2 separate regions of the Homo sapiens genome follow, and region 1 is linked to region 2. Evidence: fine-mapped expression QTL. A gene starts in region 2. The other region holds a variant in brackets. All regions are shown on one strand. Distances are from middle to middle.

What was found. PIP is the estimated chance that this variant, and not a neighbour inherited with it, causes the effect.
Region 1: its variant is the best candidate, but not a certain one, in a credible set for the expression of CPO in whole blood (TOPMed, PIP 0.87).

What each region holds. Positions count from the first base shown.
Region 1 is chr2:206,790,296-206,793,127 of GRCh38, reverse strand. It overlaps FASTKD2 (FAST kinase domains 2), which reads right to left. Exons shown (of 12, transcript NM_001136193.2): 11 at 2,442-2,556; 12 at 1-1,445. The coding sequence ends at 1,326. Among named protein-coding and RNA genes, the nearest start is that of MIR3130-1, 8.4 kb to the right of the region's middle. The variant T/C (reference allele first, on the strand shown) is at 1,441.
Region 2 is chr2:206,938,122-206,940,907 of GRCh38, reverse strand. CPO (carboxypeptidase O) reads right to left here and starts at 1,390. Exons shown (of 9, transcript NM_173077.3): 1 at 1,241-1,390. The coding sequence starts at 1,308.

The DNA.
Region 1 (2,832 bases), 150 kb after region 2:
GCCTCAGCCTCCCCAGTAGCTGGGATTATAGGCATGCACCACCATGCCCGGCTAATTTTTTGTATTTTAGTAGAGATGGGGTTTCACCGTGTTGGCCAGGATTGTCTTGACCTCCTGACCTCATGATCAGCCCACCTCGGCCTCCCAAGTGCTGGGATGACAAGCACGAGCCACCGTGCCCAGCCCAGTTTTTGTATTTTCTTATAAGCCTATGTTAGCTCACATTCAAACTCCAGCCCTCCCCTACTCTGTGTAGCCTTGGGCAAATACCTATCCTGATTTTAGAGATGAGGAAGTGAAGACACAGAGAGAATCATAATAGCAGCTACACCTCAAAGGGTTCAGATCATGAAAAGGCAGCACACAAATGAATACTTAGCAGTGCCCGGCACATACTAAGATGTCTAGTAATTGCATGTCTGTGTGCTTGGGGGCAGAATAACACCAACTTGCATGGAACCCATGCTGTAAGTTCCACAAGAGACCATGCCTATTCATCACTATATCCCCAGCGAGCCAAATACTAGGTAGACAGGCATATTGAACAAAATAGTTGAATTTGGACAAATATTTGAACAAAGAATGAACACACATAATCGAAAAAATAGTCCTCAGGTCTGATTCACAACACAATTCAGCTATATATTTAATTTAAAAGACTTCATGAAATTGTGGGAGGGGTAAGGGGGAAAAAAGAAAGAGAAAGGAAGGACCCCAACAACAGTAAGACTCCTTACCATCTACATCTCATCTGTGTTTCTCTTATTATAACCCATGAAATATCTCTACCTGCAGTGCTTATTACAAATACAAATACCATCCTCACTCATTTTCAACAGCTACCTCACTAATTCTTACACACTTGACAACTTTAGAACTTTGTCCAATTATTATTTGGCCAATGCTTGAAAATGATTTAAAGGCATAACCCCAAGTCTTAGAACAGCTTAGAGCAGGAGTATAAATATTCAGATTCCAAAGACAAGGACTACTACCCACATCAACCTGCCTGTGACACCTCACAACTAAGAAACCAGTTTTTAGTAGATCAAAGATGAAAAGGTGAAACGTACAGCTCACAAATCAAATATCTGGGCACTAGAGGGAATAGGTGTGGTTGGAAAAATAACCCTTCTGGAATTTTCTCAGCATATTTTTAAATGGCAGTAACAACATTTCTTCCACTCCTAAAATTAATTTTAATAGTGAACTGAGGTAACATTTTTTGTCTTAGCAGATAGCTCAATTCCATTGACAACTGACTTGTCATCTTTATTAATTTTTACAAATGCATGTCTCCTAATATGAAAAGGTTGATTTTCACTTTATTGTGTGCTTTGCACATTTACAGCAGCAACAGGAAGAGCTTCTACTGAATAGATTTTAGTCTTCAAAAATGTGACTGCATCTTCCATCTCTAGTTTGTCCATCTCCCAGTTA[T/C]TGACCTTACCAAAGAAAGAGGAAAATAATCAGTTTGTGAGACGATACTAACAAAAGAGCTAGTTTAGAGATCCAAACATAGTAAAGTAACATGAGGACAATAGCTTTTTGAAAGCAAATGTGACCTTATAACTACTCATATTTTAAAGGCATAATAAGACTACATGCTAGGGTTTAAGAAAGCTTTAACTGTGAAAATTATACAAATTTTAAAGGTCCTCTAAATGGTGCAAAAACTGCTTTCTTGAGAAAATCTTCCTTAGAATATATATAATCAGCAATATAAAAAACAAAGTCTTAAATAGTAGCCCACTAAGAGAAAGGAGTCATCTTAATCTCAATAGTCCACACGTAATCCATTTCCAATACTAAAGTATAATAATAGAAGACTTGGAATGTTTACATCTTACATTATGCGCAGGACCAAATGAGTGGCATTTAGATAGATTCCAACAGCAACATATATATAAATGTATTTGTAAGGTTCCTACTACCTAGAAACATCAGAAGAGGCTGTTCAAGAGAAGCTGTGGGGTACAAAATAAAATTGAAGCATAAGAGGGAAGAGAAAGACCCATCTTCTTAAAACCATCCAGCCTTTTCTGGCAACAAACATCCTGTAACAGCTTCACACAGGCCATGAAAACAAAGCTTTAACATCTTTCCTTCCCTTGTTCAAGATAACCTGGAAATTAAATATGGTTTTGTGTATCTTAAATATGAAAATATATTATTTGCATTCTTCTTCTTAGCAAAAAAGGATTAAAGCTGACCAGAACAACATTTGTAAAAGCTCTAGTAATGACAGTAATCAGCTGAGCAGAACCCAAATCGTGTACTAGCAATGTTCTTTTTCAAAGAAAACAGTAACTAAAGCACTCATTCCAATAATGCTGACAATTCCTCTAGTCCTAGTAACCAGTCTCAACCACAAGATTCCTGGCAGCTGTTAGAATGTACATCAGTAATTAAAGAATATTTCATTTGCATTTTTTTCTCACCAAGATCACATGAAAACCCATTGCATTCAAATGCCGCATTTTCATAGCAAGGAATCCTCTGGGGTGGCTTGAACCCAAACAATAAGCAGATCTGGAAACACATAGCACAGCTACTCTGAAAACAAAAATAAACAAAACAAGAACAGTTATTGATATTACTATTTAGTCTTGCTGCATTCTTGTTCTCTGGAGATTTCCAAGTTGAGCTCTCCACCGACCACAATCCTTGATATTCCTGTCTTAGTCCTTCACTTCTTTTACTTGGCCTCTGCAGATATTCCACTATACAAGGCTACTTTATAAATCAAAAATATACAACATTATACACAGTTACCTCTCAGTTCCCTTTAAGGATGGCTACATTTTTGAAGAGGAAAATTTTCAGACATGA
Region 2 (2,786 bases):
ATCACAGAGATCCTGGACTCTGTAAGTATCTGAAATTGAACTGAAGATAAGGAACAAGCTGAGGTCACACAATTATTGTGGGACAAAAATTGGAGTGGGTTTCTATGTTATGTGAGAGCAAGTTCATTGCAAGATTTCTTTAACCATGAAGCAAAAGAGGAAATACCAATTATAACCACATATACTTCATGAGATATGCTAAATGAGCAAAATAATGATTTGCATATGAACAAGGGAAAAACACACTTTATATGGAAACTATACACACACACATACACACACACAGATTTCAATAGAATGTATTTAGAGAACTTATGATTCATTAAGAGTAGGGAGAGACCACAAAAATGGGCAAATGACATTAATGGGCAATTTATAAAATGATAAAATTAGTAATAAAATATTTACTCTTATAAATCAACAAAATACAAAGGAAGTCAACAATGTGTATTTTTTACTTGTCAATTTGCCAAACACTTAAAAAGTGCTTTCATACACTGTTATTGGAAGTGTAGACTGATGTAATCTTTCTAGAGGGTAATTGGGCAATGTGTAGCAAGATCCTTACATTTTCCTCAGTTACTGACCCAGTAATTCCACTTCTTAGAGAAATAATTAAAGATTTGCAAAAAGCAAAAAAAATTATGTAGCTGGTTGCTCATCACAGCATTATTTGTAAAAATGAAAAAGCAGGAATTGACTAAATGACAGAATATTATTAGCAATTTCAACTGTTTTAAATAAATTGCTAATGCCATAGGAAAATTTCTGTAATACAATTTAAGTGAAATATTTCAGAAATAGTGCTGCATACATAATCAGGTAGCTATCTGAAAACATTAATAGTACTTATCTCTAGGTGAAATTATTTGGTCATTTTAACATTTTTCTTAATAATTAGGATAATGTGATTTACCAAATGAGATACTATGAAAATGAAGGATATAGAATTTGTATTACAATTTTCTTTTTCCAATCACAAAACATGACATGTCTATTTGTATATCTCATGCATTGTGTTAGGAAATGTTTGCTAGATATTTATTCATTTATTCAAGGATTATTAGAGGATTATGATTATTCAGTGATAAATTTCAGTGGTCTTTATTATTCTCATCTCATGGTGGTATATATGAGTAGCAAGGAAGGAGAAGCCAGCTGCATTGGTCTTAAAAAGAAACCATTCAATTTAGACAATCTAAATTATAATAATCAGTTCCTCTTCCCACTTTACACTCACCTATCATATCCCAGCCCTCCAGGAACCAGCATCCCCAAAAGATAAAGGGTTTCAAGCAGAGGCTTCATTCTGCCACACAGTAAGTTAGAAAATTCTGGGCCTCTCTGGCAGTGGATCAAGTGTCCTTGAGAATGAATGCATCAAGACTGTGGCTCCCACAATCAAGATGAGATAAATCAGTTAGTGGATGTCTCAGCAGAAAGTCACGGGCAATTGCTTTATTAACTCTCTCATGTCCTCAAACACCTTTTCCAGTGTGGGAAATGCTGTACCATTTGATATTTCATTTCTTCTCTAAAACCAAATTTACGTGAGCTCTCAACTTCACCAGATCCTGAAATAAATTTCCTCCCTATGTAAAGTCACCTTGGAGTATTTCTAGGAACCCCCATCACTCGTGCTCAGGAGCAATCATTCCTGCTCTTCCCCTCACACAGGTTGAATGGGAATAGTAGGCTAGTCTTTGTGAATCATGAGCCTGTTCATGAGACCAGAAAGAACACTCTGCTCTGGTCAAAATGGACATGGTCATTATTCAGAATCTCCACTTCCTCCTTCAATCTAAGGCTTTGATTGGGGTCAAATGCCTTCTCTTTTTCTGATGAACCACATCACCAGCTTCTTAAACAAACCCAGATCTCTTCAAATCTGAGCAGTGAAGACAGTTTCAATCCTTTCCCATGTGGATTTTACCCCACGCCCCTCTTACATGAAGGACTCTGTCAGATACTCCGCCATGTTTTCAGACATAGCCAAGTTATGCTTGAATCTCATTGACCAGTAAAATTAAAGACTCATGTTAAGACCATTGCTAATAGTCTAACTGAGCAAGGCAAACTTTAGCGCAGAGCAGGTAGAGTATTTAAATGGAGTCCTTGGCATTTAGGGACCCAGTTTAAATCTTCTGCCCTGTATTCATGTATTCATTCTACAAAAATCTCATGAGTACCACTGTATACCAGACACTATGCTAGATACTTAAGATACAAGGGTGAACAAGGCAGAGTCCCTTCTTTTATGGAACTCACAGTAGAGTTGAGAGAAAAATAAACGAGTATACAAACAAATGTTACAGTTTCAAGTAAAGAGAATGCAGTTAAAAAACTAGAGGAGATAAGCGCTTCCATGCTGTCTCCAGGCATGCCATCCACCCAGTCCCTCCATGTGTTTAGCAACCCAGAGGCTCTCCAAACTCTGTTCCCTTGTGTTTTTATGAAGACTTCATTACATAGGTATGATTGATCATATCATTGGTCATTGGTGATTAAATAAATCTCCAGTCCCTCTTTCCTCCCCAGAGATGGGAGGGGATTACTGAATAACATGGCTGATTCTCCTGGCAACCAGCCGCTATCCTTAGAAACTTTCCAAAAGTTACCTGTTCACTTAAACTTAGACATAGTCAAAAGGGACGTCATGAATAACAAAAATGGCCCTTTCACCTTTATTGATCTTATCACTGAGGAAATTCCAAGGGTTTTAGGAGCTCTGTGTCAGGAACCAGGGACAAAGACAAAATATGTATTTCCTATTGTATCACAATATC